Homo sapiens: one gene and its partners. The protein of the gene in region 1 interacts with the protein of each later gene in a pairwise test. Each region holds a gene or a part of one and is shown in the gene's direction. Other genes may lie near its edges.

What was found. The genes of interacting proteins can lie anywhere in the genome.
Region 2: the proteins of JMJD7 (region 1) and SH3GLB1 interact in binary tests that used the Homo sapiens proteins (3 or more experiments, as listed by UniProt).
Region 3: the proteins of JMJD7 (region 1) and KIF1B interact in binary tests that used the Homo sapiens proteins (3 or more experiments, as listed by UniProt).
Region 4: the proteins of JMJD7 (region 1) and POM121 interact in binary tests that used the Homo sapiens proteins (3 or more experiments, as listed by UniProt).

Annotation. Positions count from the first base shown.
Region 1 is NC_000015.10:41,831,092-41,834,586, forward strand, and holds part of JMJD7 (bifunctional peptidase and (3S)-lysyl hydroxylase JMJD7), read left to right. Parts: intron 1-3,495. UniProt on the Homo sapiens protein: Bifunctional enzyme that acts both as an endopeptidase and 2-oxoglutarate-dependent monooxygenase.
Region 2 is NC_000001.11:86,707,576-86,711,075, forward strand, and holds part of SH3GLB1 (endophilin-B1), read left to right. Parts: intron 1-3,500. UniProt on the Homo sapiens protein: May be required for normal outer mitochondrial membrane dynamics. Required for coatomer-mediated retrograde transport in certain cells. May recruit other proteins to membranes with high curvature. May promote membrane fusion.
Region 3 is NC_000001.11:10,213,570-10,217,069, forward strand, and holds part of KIF1B (kinesin-like protein KIF1B), read left to right. Parts: intron 1-3,500. UniProt on the Homo sapiens protein: Has a plus-end-directed microtubule motor activity and functions as a motor for transport of vesicles and organelles along microtubules.
Region 4 is NC_000007.14:72,945,447-72,948,799, forward strand, and holds the end of POM121 (nuclear envelope pore membrane protein POM 121), read left to right. Parts: intron 1-139; coding exon 140-262; intron 263-690; coding exon 691-788; 3' UTR 789-2,853; downstream 2,854-3,353. UniProt on the Homo sapiens protein: Essential component of the nuclear pore complex (NPC). The repeat-containing domain may be involved in anchoring components of the pore complex to the pore membrane. When overexpressed in cells induces the formation of cytoplasmic annulate lamellae (AL).

The DNA of each region.
Region 1 (3,495 bases):
CCACCCATGGCTGCCCATGGACCAATAGGCATGTACCTCCTCCCCTGTGAGACCCATAAAAAGCCCCTGACTCAGCCAGACCAGAAGAGACGATGGGACGACCAGCTGCGGGGAGGAGCTACCCTCTCTGCTGAGAGCTGGAGAGATGACAGGACAACCTGCCCACAGAGAGGAGCTACTCTAGCCAGGGAAGCAAGCAGGCATGCCAGCTCTTTCTTTTCCAGTATTCCTGGGCCCAGTGGGGTCTTCTCACTCAGTTACAATATTTGATCTAAGAACATTCACTTTCCAACTGATCAGAAAGTAAAGGTGACTGGCATGGTGTGGCTGTGAGAGATGCAGTGTGACCTCAGAGGTGAACATCAGTGCCGGGACCATTTGGAGCAGGATGTGGTAACCACCAAATGGAAACCACGGCCTTTTGGCTCGACCTAGAGCATGAATGTAGCAAAGCGAAGCCCTGTACACTTTATAAAAACCAGCAGAAAGACACTCCAGTCTGAGTGAGCAGCTGGAACAAAGCTCTGCTGAGCTGAACACTCAACAGGACTACCTGCCTGCAGAGAGAGGAGCTATCCTCTTTGCTGAGAGCTGAACACTCGTTGGGACACCCTGGCTGCGGAGAGGAGCTGCCCACTGTGGGTCTCCTCTGAGCTATCCTATGGCTCAGTAAAGCTCCTCTTTGTCTTGTTTACCCTCTGCTTGTCTGTGTGTACCTCATTCTTCCTGGATGCAGGACAAGAATTGGGACCTGCTGAGTGGCGGGGCTAAAAGAGCTGTAACATGAAGAGGACTGAACCATGCGTCTTGCTCGCCACATTGTGGGTGTCCAGAAGGAAAGAAGAACTGCGGCCCTTTGGGGAGTCCAGACCCAGGAGCTTCCCAAGCTGGGGTTCTGACACCCTCTTTAGGGCTCTGCGGTTCCTGGTATCTGCAAGCTTCCAGGCACCACCATGCTTCCCAGTGTCAGCTGTGGAAGCTGCTTATGGTACACCTGGTCTAGCTGCAGCCTTGCAGGAAACCAGCACCTGTGTTGGCACCTGAAGCTGCCTGCCCCACCGCAGCCCACATGCCTAGCTGTGCGCAGTGGCCAAACCCCACACTCATTCGCTCACACACCCCTCGCTGCCCCACTCGCCCTTGGCAGGTGTGGGATCCAGGCCGGTAGCATGAGCTGAGCACAGCCTGCAGGGCCGAGTGGGCCCAATGGGCCCGAGCAAAACAGGCAAAGGCATCACTGGCCACAGAGGTTTCCAGCTGGTAAAGCAACACCCCAAAGATCCCGTGACAGTTTATGGCTGCGGTGAGCTATTATTGCGTCACTGCACTTCAGCCTGGGCAACAGAGCAAGACTCTGTCTCTTAATCTCAGCGAGTACAACAGGAAGATGTACTGAGCCCCAGACCACCCCATCTCTCAAGGTGACTGCTTGGATGGGCTGGCGTGACTGGGAAGGCCTTTGCCACTTTGCTGTCTCCTGGATTCCATATCTACTGGATGGGTGCCATCTTGCCTCTAGCCAGGGAAGCAAGCAGGCACACCAACTCTTTCCTTTCCAGTATTCCTGGGCCCAGTGGGGTCTTCTCACTCAGTTACAATATTTGATCTAAGAACATTCACTTTCCAACTGATCAGAAAGTAAAGGTGACTGGCATGGTGTTGCTGTGAGAGGTGCAGCGTAACCTCAGAGGTGAACATCAGTGCTGGGACCATTTGGAGCAGCATGTGGTAACCACCAAATGGGAACCACGGCCTTCTGGCTCGACCTAGAGCATGAATGTAGCAAAGCGAAGCCCTGTACACTTTATAAAAACCAGTAGAAAGACACTCCAGTCTGAGTGAGCAGCTGGAACAAAGGTACCACCTGAATAGAGGGTGTGTGGCAAGGGCAGGCACGAGACAGGAAATCAGACTGGAAGAGTAGGTTGGGCCTGGTCATGCGTGCCAAGGCAGGCAGCATTCTCTAAGGAGCAGTGGTAAGCCATCAAGGCATTTGTTACTAGGGGTGTGACAATATGAGATTGTATTTTCAGAAGATGACTGGGGCTATGATGATGAATGCTTTGGGTGGGAGTGGAATTAAGCCAGAGAAACCAGCTAGTTCACTACTGCAACCATCCAGCCAGGATACTGGAGACTTTTATTCAACATTAGGCAAATACTTGCTGAGCACATGCTATGTGCTAGGTACTGTTCTAGGTCCCAGGGGTGCATCAGTGAACAGACAACTGTCTCTGCCCTTGTGGAGTTCACATTCTAGCAAGGGTGAAAGAATGATAAACAGTTTATGTAGGTGAAATACATATATATATATATATATATATTTTTTTTTTTTTTTTTTTTTTTTGAGATAAAGTCTTGCTCTGTCACCCAGGCTGGAGTGCAGTGGCACGATGATAGCTCATTGCAGCCTCTACCTCTTGGACTCAAGTGATCCTCTGGCTTCAGCCTCTAGCGTAGCTAGGAGTATAGGTGCATGCCACCATGTCCAGTTAATTTTTAATTTTTTTGTAGAGATGGGGTCTCCCTACGTTGCCAAGGCTGGTCTTGACCTCCCGGCCTCAGCAATCCTCCTGCCTCTGCCTCCCAAAGTGCTGGGATTACAGACATGAGCCACCACGTCTAGCCCTAAAATATATAGCATGTCAGATGGTGATGAATGCTAACGAGAAAAAATACGGAAAGGGATATAAAGATTTGCAGCAGGGGGACAGATTATAAATTTAGAAAGTATAGTCAGAGAAGGAAGTCTTATCAATGTGATATTTGAGTGAGGACCCAAAGGAGGTAGCTGGAATGTGGATGCCAGTGGAGGAGAGGAGACGGTGGGTTTGAGAGACATAGGAGACAGAATCAACAGGACTCAGAGCCAATCAGTAGGATGACGGGAGTGAAGGAGAAAGCTGAGTCAAAAAGATTTTGATTAGAGGTGACACAGGGCCACTGTAGACCCCTGCGCAGGCGGCACACCACGCAGCCTGCCGAAGTGTACGTGGTGGCCCTGGGTGTCTGGAGATGGTGATGCTGTTCAGCAGGACCCAAACCATAGCCGAGCCCTTCCTTTTCCTCCATTGGTGTCATCTGGTAGTTTGTCTTCCCGGGTAAGAAGGTTGTAAATTTCTTAAGATGATGATTGTGTCATCCCTGATAGCCCCAGATTAGCCAAGCCAAGTGCTGAGCACATTCCTGGTGCTCAGTAAATGTCACTGTTAAAGGGGGCTTCCCAGAGCCACACAACACCCAGAATAGCCCGTGGCCATGGGGCCTCAGCCTTACTCATTCTGGAGCTCCCAATGCCACTTCCATGGTGGCCTTTCCTGGTAGATGCTAGGAGGCTGGCCTCTCCAGGGTGGGAAGGCATAGGGTCCACTGTGCAGACACAGCCCCACAGGGGATTTGGCTTATGGGCTGGGTAGCAGCCTCTGGCCCTGTGGACGGTCAGGGCCCATGCTGGTGTGTGTGCGTGATGCTTTCTGCTTTCATTTTTCCGTCCTC
Region 2 (3,500 bases), on another chromosome or scaffold:
TTAGAGATACATACTGAAATGTTTATGGATAAACTTATATCATATCTGAGATTTGGTTTTTACAGGGTATTTTTTTTTTTTTTTTTTTTTGAGATGGAGTTTGGCTCTTGTTGCCCAGGCTGGAGTGCAATGGCGCGATCTCAGCTCATTGCAACCTTCGCCTCCCCGATTCAAGCCAATCTCCTGCCTCCGTCTTTCAAGTAACTGGAATTACAGGCAGGCTCCACCACGCCCAGCTAATTTTGCATTTTTAGTAGAGATGGGGTTTCACCATGTTGGTCAGGCTGGTCTTGAACTCCTGACCTCAGGATCCACCTGCTTCGGCCTCCCAAAGTGCTGGGATTACAGGTGTGAGCCACCACACCAGTTGAGATTAGCGTTTGAATATTTCAAAAGAAAAAAACAGAAGTCGCTGAAACAACAGCAACGGAATGTTGATAGTTGTGGAAGGTTGGTTATGGGTTCATGAGGTTTCATTATACTGTTATACTTTTGTATGTTTGACATTTTCCATAATACTTTTTTAAAGATAAAATTTGTAAGAAAAAAAGGATGCTTCTAAAATAGAACATGTGAAATTTGGAATGCTGTGTGGTAGTTTTCAACAAAACACTGCTTTCTCATCTCAGTATTTATTTCATCACTGAGTTCCTACATTAAATTGCATTGACATCAGTATAATGCCAAAGTACCAAGTTTCATGCTAAGAATAGCTTAAGAGCTATGCCAATATCTCTTTATAAGCAGTAAGAACAGTAGAGAGAGAAACATTCACGTTTATAAATAATAATTTTCATTCAAATCAAATTGTACCGTAAGGAATATGCCATTCTTTGGTTGGCCAACGCCATACATTGTTTTCCATTTTACTTAAAAATTTCTAAGTTAAAAATTAAACATGTTTCTTGTTTTAAAAAAAGGTCAGCTCAAACTAGTAAAGCACATAGATGCGTCCCATCACCACTCCACTTCCCTCCTTTTAAAATTTGTTTATAAGCCTTGGTACTTTAAAAAGAATGTTAGACTAGAATGTATAAATGAGTAGGAATGTTTATTCTTAACTAGCCCATTTGGGTGCTTGTTTTTAAGTACCTCAAGATGGTAAAATACAAAAGTATCAGGTAATTCACCCTTGCTTAATTGTTATTTTACTAGAGTTTTAAATGCCATTTATTCTTAGAATCCATCTTTTTAGTCCAAACTTCTTAGTTGAGCATTAAATACTCCCTTACAATCTGGTCCTTTCTCTCACTTATATAAACACTGTATTCCAAATTATTTTTTAATTTCCAAAATATCTTCTACTTATTTTAGGCTTTTGTTCATATGGTTAGACTCCTCTTAAGTGTCCTGTCTGCCTATTCTTTCCTTTCCTTAAGATACAACTTTATTCATCTCCAAAATGGAGAGAGTAAAAAAAATTTTAAAATAAAAGTAAAATAAACTTTTTTTAAAGATATAGCTTCAAATCCATCTCAGCTGATAAGGCTTCTTAGACCACAAGAGCTTGCTGTGAAATCGTGAATCATTTTCAATTCCAAATGATGAGGTGGCACTTTTCTTCTAATGAACTGTTATGTTAGATCTCTTGGAACTCTAAAGTTCTGTTACTCTGACTTTCTTTAATAAGTTTGTATGTGCTAAGGCATCAACTCTGTTTCTTATTCCCCTCTTACAACATCTAACATGGTTCATCTTTTATATCATTTTAGCCAGGCAAATTACCATCCATATGTGAAGTTTAATCTTTGAAGGGCAACAATAAGCATGTTAAATAACAGTATCTTTATTAGTATTTTCTAACATTGTTTGCGGACCTTGAAGTTAACTAATACCAGTATAAATTGAGTACCTCCTAGGTGCTTGGCGTTGAAAGATACAAAGCTGAATGAGACCCTGTTCCTGCCCTCAGAGACTTCATAATAATAGTCTCAAACTTGTCATAAATCTTATTTGTACTAAATAGCCATTTTGTGAATAACTTTATTTGATAAATCTTTCAAGTGGATAAAGGAACAAGAGATGTGTTTTTAACTCAGAATTCTTATTGAAGCAAAACCTTGCTCACCATCATTAAAATAAGAGCAAAGACTTTCTAAAAAGAATTTTTCAAATCAAATTACTTAGGGAGGGAGTTCATTTTAATTTTCTAACATTTCCTCTAAACTGATTATTAAAGTCATACTATGAAATTCGTGAACACCAGCTATTTTCTAAGGAATATAGTTCTTAAAATATAGTTTTGAGCTTGGCCTTGATCTCCCATTTATTTCAGCAAGTGTCATGGTGTGTCTAAGGATGTAAAGATGAATATGATGTTGCCGTTCAATAGCTCCTGTCAGACCCTCCCTGGAGTTTCAGTTTGGCCAAACAACTCTCTCAAGCACTTCTGAAATCCTATTTCTTTTACAGAATTCACACCGTGACAACTTCACCATGTTTCTTAAATTCTAATAAATAAAATATGTCACATTCGAAATCCATACATTTTCTTGTTATATAAAAACTCTACATGTTTAGTGTTACTTAAAACTGTTTTCACATCCTTTGGTGCTATTTGCATTACTTTAGTAAAATAGATAGAAGATAGTTTGTTAACCTGATGTTAAAATTTACACTTATGTACTACATGAGTAAGGTAATTAGAAAATCTATAAAACTCTTTTAAATTCATCATATTTCTTGAAAGAATTTTTTTTTTTTTTTTGAGACGGAGTCTCGCCCTGTTGCCCAGGCTGGAGTGCAGTGGCACGATCTTGGCTCACCGCAATCTCCGTTTCCCAGGTTCAAGCTATCCTCCTTCCTCAGCCCCTCTAGTAGCTGGGATTACAGACACGCGCCACCGTGCCCGGCTAAATTTTGTATTTTTAGTAGAGACGGGGTTTCACCATGTTGGCCAGGCTAGTCTCGAACTCCTGATCTCAGGTGATCCACCCGCCTCAGCCTCCCAAAGTGCTGGGATTACAGGCATGAGCCACCGTGCCTGGCCTTTCTTGAAAGTATTTTTAAGGTAATGACAGAGCTACAAATTAATCCTAAACTCTTAACCACACCCAACTGATGTACTCCTAGTTGCTTTGCTACTATATTTAAAATGATCAAACACCTAAGTCAATTACTTTAATATTCTTTGGAGACCAGCTTACTGAAAGAACCTCAACACAGTTAATATATTTGAAGCAAAACTCCAGCACAGTGAAGTAACAGTAATAACAGCTGAAATTCCTAAATGGGCCAAAGAGGAAAGTAAAGTAATGCAGCATGCACTAAACCAAGCGATACATATTTAAATAGTTATGAATGAGTTTAGAACAGTGGTTCTCAGTCTTGGCTGCACTTAAAATGCTTGGGGAATCTTTATAAATGCCAATATATGAGCTACACCCCAGTCCAATTAAATTAGAATCTTAGGGGTTGGATCAGACCAGACATCAGTGTTTTCTAAAGCTCCCTCAAGTAATTCTAAAGAACAGCCAAAATTGGGAACCAATGGAGAAAGA
Region 3 (3,500 bases), on another chromosome or scaffold:
GCTGCTAATCATAGTAGATCTTTTCCAGGAGGAAGCATATCCTTTTGGTCTTGTAAACTAACATGATATAATTTCATAATGCTCTGAAGTTATTTTATGTCTATTTCATGTATTTCTCTTTGAAAGATGGCCTCGTTTGAACAGGTACTGGTGAATATCTGGATTCTGTGAAACAGTGTGAATAAATATGCATACTTCTTGAACTTTTTTTGTGCAGCTTGTCAGGATAGAAGAGAAATTAAACAGATGTGACTGTGGTAGGAAAAACCTGCAAAAGGTGCCTTGGGCCGGATGCAGTGGCTCACATCTGTAATCCCAGTGCTTTGGGAGGCTGAGGCGGGAGGATTGCTTCACATCAAGAGTTTGAGACAAGCTTGGACAACATAGCAGGACCCCCATCTCTACCAAAAAAAAAAAAATCTGGATGTGGGTGGTGTGTGTTTGTAGTCCTAGTGCTTCGGAGGCTGAGTGGGGAGGATGGCTTGAGTTTGAGATTACAGTGAGCTAAGACAGCGCCATTGCACTCCACTCTGGGCTCAGACTTTGCCTGCTAAAAATAAAAAGATGCCTTGGACTTCTCAGAGTTGAACTGTTTGGTTAACGGGCCACTGATTCATTGATGCTCTTTTACTATAGGCATTACCCATTAACTGAGGGTGCATGTAGAGATTTAGTTCTTTACCTTCCAGGAACTCACACTTTACCACTTCTTTCTTTCTTTCTTTCTTTTTTTTTTTTAAGACAGAGTCTCGCCCTGTCACCCAGGCTGGAGTGCATTGGTGTGATCTCAGCTCACTGCAACCTCCGCCTCCCGGGTTCAAATGATTCTCCTGCCTCAGCCTCCCAAGTAGCTGGGATTACAGGCACCTGCCACCATGCCCAGCTAATTTTTGTATTTTTAGTAGAGATGGGGTTTCACCATGTTGGCCAGGCAGGTCTCGAACTCCTGACCTTCTGATCCGCCTGCCTTGGCCTCCCAAAGTGCTGGGATTACAGGCATGAGCCACCGTGCCCTGCCCTTTTTTTTTTTTGGGATGGAGTCTTACTCTGTCACTCAGGCTGGAGTGTAGTGGTGTGATCTTGGCTCACTGCAACCTCCACCTCCTGGGTTCAAGTGATTCTCCTGCCTCAGCCTCCCGAGCAGCTGGGACTACAGGTGCACACCACCATGCCCAGCTAATTTTTGTATTTTTAGTAGAGACGGGGTTTCACCGTATTGGCCAGGCTGATCTCGAACTCCTGACCTTGTGATCCACCCACCTCAGCCTCCCAAAGTGTTGGGATTACAGGCATGAGCTACTGCACCTGGGCTACCATTTCTATATAGAAATGGTGAGATAAAGTTAACTCCAACTCCTTTTCATTTTAGTACAATTTAGTATCCTGATATGGTTTCCGTGATTTCCAGTCAGAGCATTTTCAAAATTCTTTGTAATGTTGTATGTACATAATACTGTACTTATTATCTAATACTCAATTGGTACTTTTACATTTGTCTTGTGGTTTTTTGTATAGTGTTTGAAGTCACAAGCTTGTAAATGTTTGATGGATTTAAAAATTTATATATTTTATATATATATATATATATATATATATATATATATTTTTTTTTTTTTTTTTTTTTGAGACGGAGTTTCACTCTTGTTGCCCAGGCTGGAGTGCAACGGCGCGATCTCGGCTCACCGTAACCTCCACCTCCCAGGTTCAAGCGGTTCTCCTGCCTCAGCCTCCCTAGTAGCTGGGATTACAGGCCTGTGCCACCACGCCCAGCTAATTTTGTATTTTTAGTAAAGTAGGGGTTTCTCCATGTTGGTCAGGCTGGTCTCGAACTCCCGACCTCAGGTGATCCACCCACCTTGGCCTCCCAAAGTGCTGGGATTACAGGCATGAGCCACTGTGCCCGGCCTATTTTTTGTATTTAATATCACATTGTTTATACCAAAGCATATCATTCAACCATACTACCCTCTACCATTGCCCGTTTTTTTCCCCTTGAGACAGGCTCTTACTCTATTGCCCAGGCTGGAGTGCAGTGGCGCAGTCATGGCTCACTGCAGCCTTGACCTCCTGGGCTCAAGTGGTCCTCCTATCTCAGTCTCCTGAGTAGCTGGGATCACAGGCATGCGCTACCATGCCCAGCTAATTTTTAAATTTTTGTAGAGATGGAGGTCTCACTATATTGCCTATTGCCCAGCCTGGTCTTGAACTCCTGAGCTCAAGTGATCCACCTCAGTCTTCCAAAGTGGGAGGATTAAAGGCATGAGCCCCTGTGCCCAGCCCCATTGCTCTTTTGGATTACTATATTGTTGGCTTAGTTCTCTCTTTCATCCAGATTTTTGACATCATCTTGGCAGATGTCAATGACTATGTAAATAAACAATAACAGAAACAACAATAGTGATAAAATAGCTTATTCATATTGAGCACTTTCTGTGTGCCAGGCTTTTTTCTAAGCACTTTACGTTTATTAACTAATTTAACCCTAATAGCAGCCATATGAAATAAATACTGTTATTCCCATTTTACAGATGAAACTAAAACAGGCCAAGTGACTTCCCCAAAATCATAAGTACTAGTAAGTAACCACTATGCTGAGTTTCCTTTGTAACTACCGTTAACTGTGAAATTTCTTGAATTGAGCTCAAGCAAACATTGGCTTCATTCTGTTCCAGTTGTTTAGTGTTATGGCCACATTTTTAACTTGTCATCATGTTAAGGTCTCAAATTCACCTTCAAGTCTTAAACTGTGATAATTGATAGCTTTCACTTTCATAATCACTTTATGTGTGTTCTCCCACTCTAAGTCTCCTAAACCGTCGGCCTCTTCCAGATTTTACTTCTTTTCCTTCCTTTTCTATACTACGACCTCTGGGTTGCATTGCTTGCAGTTTTTATTCTTTCTTATTATTCTTCAGGACTTACTATGCAGAAGCCAGCCTCACATCATCCCTACCATCCATACCCTCCATTCTTACTCCGTGTCATGGAGAAACCTGCATAGTGCTGGGGATTAGTGCCACAATTAATGTGTAGTCCGAGGTCTCCCTTAAATCTGTCTTTGGTCCCTGTCGGAGCAGTTCTGCTTAGCTCCCTCCCCATTTCTCCACAGTTGCTATTATAAAATCTGGACCCCTTGACTCAAACCTGTCACTGCCCCATGCTTGGCAGAATACCTTGCCTGCCACCTCATAGGAAAAAAGGGCATGAACTCCCTGAGCTTTCCCTTCCTCTACTTACAAACTTCTCTGCCCTCTTTCTTCTGTTCTTTCCCCCAGTGTGAGAAAGAGGTTACTCTGTCTTGGCCTCTGTTAGGGATAGCACTGTTCTAATCTGTAGGAACTCGCAGTATTGGTTACTCTTCTTTTCCCTGCAGTACTTGCCCATTTTCTTTTTTTTTTTTTTTTTTTTTTTTTTTTTTTTTTGAGACAGAGTCTTGTTCTGTCACCAAGACTGGAGTGCAGTGGCCTGATCTTGGCTCACTACAACCTCTGCCTCCCGGA
Region 4 (3,353 bases), on another chromosome or scaffold:
TGATGGAGGAGTGCCCCAGAAGCAGAAGTGGGGCTGAGGGTCCCGTGGGAAGTGCCCTGCGGAGCACAGGCTCCTGCCCGGCTCCTCGCTTGCCTCTGCCCTCTGCTCACTGGCCAGCTCTCTGTTCTCTTCATTCCAGGCACCGCCACCCCCACCTTTGGTCTGAACACCCCTGCGCCTGGAGTGGGCACATCAGGCAGCAGCCTCTCCTTTGGGGCATCCTCAGCACCCGCCCAAGGCTTTGTTGGTGTTGCACCTTTCGGTAAGCAGCAAGCCACCCTGTGGCCCTGCTCATCTGTCTGAGGAGGGGTTGGGCGGGGTGGCAGGTTCCTGGTCCTCTGAGGCCCGGTGAAGATCAGGTTCAGCACAGGAAAGACATTTCGGGTTAGGAGTCCAGCACAACCCAGGGATGGGAGTTGGATGGCAGAGATCAGAGAGGAGCTGTCCGGGGTGGAAGTTTGCCTCCCATGGGAAGCCAGGTAAAAATGGATTCTTGGGCCTCGCTCTGAGACTCTCTGGGAGTTTGCATTTCAGGAGGCTTCTCCCGTACAGTGTTTCTGATGCAGCGGGGAAAGCCCTATTGAGGCACCCTGTGTTTTATTACTGGCCTGGCCTTCCAGAGATTTGGGCACCCAGAGTCAGAGTCTCAGGTAGCAGCTGCCCTGATGAGGTCTTGTTGAATCTTTCCAGGATCGGCGGCCCTTTCATTTTCCATTGGTGCGGGATCCAAGACCCCAGGGGCTCGACAGCGACTGCAGGCCCGAAGGCAGCACACCCGCAAAAAGTAGCCTTTGTCCCCTGTCCCTGTTCCCCCCACCCCTTCCCTAAATCTGGACCTTGGCACCTGCTAGGAAGAGCCTTGGACCCTTCCAGTTGCGTAAAGCAAACCTACCCCGGATCTCTGGCTTCAGCCGCCAGGGGGCAGTGGCAGCCCTGGGGCCCTTTCCCTTCTGGAGGAAGCACAAGCCTCAGGGAAGGGGAAGCAGGATGCGGAGGGCCAAAGCCCGGGACCTCTACTTGAACAGTTCTACTGGGGAGGCTGGAGAACTAAGGAAACACCTGTACATAGTGTCCGCTGCCCTGACTCCCGCTTAGCACACCCTTAGGCAGGCGCCCCTTCCACCTTTCCCCGAGACCGTCGTCGCTGGAGGGGGCAGGGTCCAGCCCGCCTGGATCGGTGGTGTGCACCTGATGGGATTTGGGAAATGGGCTATCCGTAAAGCTTTATCTTGCTTGGCTTAGCTGTGAGAAGTGGTTCTCTTCCTCTGGTCCCTTCTGGGGACTCTGTTTCCCCATTTCTTGCTGCTGTGTCCCTCACCAGTTCCTTGCAGGATTCCTTCGTTTTTAAATGCCCTTGAATCTAGCTTTGCCTTGGAGACCCCAGTGGGTGCTGCTCCTGCCGTTTTCTTCCTGCCAAGCCTGAATCAATGTTTCATCTCCAACCCTCTGCCAGTTTGGCCCCTCAGAGCTTGGTGGCTCAAGACTGTTAGCCTGGCAGAGCCAGGGGTGAAGGGAGAAGCTCTTGGAGCAGGCAGGATGCCCACCGCTGCTTCAGCTGCCTCCTCGCCCAGCTACCCTTTGGCCCCATTGGGCCCTCGTCTGCCTCTCCAGGATTGTATGTTTCAAGCCTTGTCCTGTGTTCCTTTGTCTGATGCTCTGTGTATTGCTCTTTGAATCGAGTTTGGAGGAAGAGTTGAGTTGTATGAGTGGCGGCATGTTGGTAGTGCCGGACTTCCTGTTTCAAGTTTTCTGGGGCCTCGCTAATTGAATGTGGAAAGTAGCACCACTTGACGGCTACAAGTGCCGACTCCTGAATTTTCCCATGGTGTTCTGACTTCAAGGGCTGGCAGCCAGGGAGAATGGGCCCAGGGGAAGCAAAGACCTCTTCCCTCTGCCGTTTCTGTCCCACTTAACTGACCTCACTGGAGGCTACATCACCCAAAGTAGATGTTAGAAAACCTAAATTAATGAACCATATTTTTAAAATCCTATTTTTCCCAAACAGGGCCCTCTGCAGCCCATCCTTTCCTTCCGTCCTTCTGAAACCACATACCCCAGGCCCAAGCGCCTTGCTGCCACGCCCAACCTCTTTGGGAGAAGTATGAATGCGTGTGTCTAAATTAAAAGAAAAAAATATTTAAACGTTTTTTAACAAAAATTTATTTTTGTATTTAAGCTAAATTGCCTTTTAAATTCCTTCAAGCTTGGTTCATTGAGGTGGTTAAGTATAAATGCTATTAACTAGGAATTAGCTGTATAGTTAAGTTATGCCTGTGCAAAGAAGAGGCTCAAATGCTGTCCCCGGCAGCTTTCCTGGGGGACTAGAGCTCCTTCTGGCCATGTTATATGAAATGTAATTCTTATTTTATAAATAATGTGATGTAAATGTAACTGGTGCCCCCTCCCCGATGTGACTGAGGGTGAGTGAGTGGTGGCGGGGCTGCTCCTTCCCACCCCTCAGAACAGCTCTGATCCTCGTTAATACCTGGCTGCGTGTGCAGCTGAGGAGGGAGTGAACCTCAAGCCTAAATACCTGTTAGGATTGGAGGGTCTGGGTGGGCCTGGGCCTAGCAATCAAGCTTCTACCTGTACCTTATGTAAGGTAGACCCTCCTAGTGTCAGTACCTGAGCTAGTTTACCTCAGTTCCGCAGGCAGGACAGCCGGTCCGGGAACCCTGAGTGAGAATGAGTGTGGATGTGTACAGTACACGCACTGGACGGCAGCGGGAGGCTGGGACTTTCCATTACAAATAGAGACTTCATTCCTGTTGAGTCTAGTTGGAATTTTTAGTATGAATGTGAGATTTTTCTCCTGCTTGTGACATTAAGAATAAAAAACTGTGATCTATCGTAGAGTACGTTCTGCATTTTATTTCTGCAGGCAACACTTTTGCTCACCAGCAAGAACACAGCCCGAGGAAGGGACCCAATAACCTTTCAAAACGCAAACTGCTGCCTGCGGTGAGGGCCCAGGGTCTTCCACGGAGAGGACAGGCATCTTCCTTTCCCACCAGGAAGGAGTGAGCCCGGAGCCTCTGCTATGTGCAAGGCGGTGTGCAAGCACCGGCTGCAGCTTTTTGCTCTCTTCTTTCTCTTTGGGGCTGGGCTGGGTGTGCGTTCTGGTGCTGATGCTTTGGCCTGTGAGGCTGAGCTAGAGAAATGTAGATGTTAGATGTGCCAGTACCATCCTGCGCCTCCCAAGCATGCCCCCACTCACTCACGTCGGCATCTCGACCCGTTCAATTACAGCAACGAAGAAGCCACCGCTAAGCGTGGTCTTGGGGGAAGCCCGGAGGCAGTGCTCGGCACCCGGGAACGTGCTCAGGCCTCGGTGGGGCCGGGCAGGCAGGGCG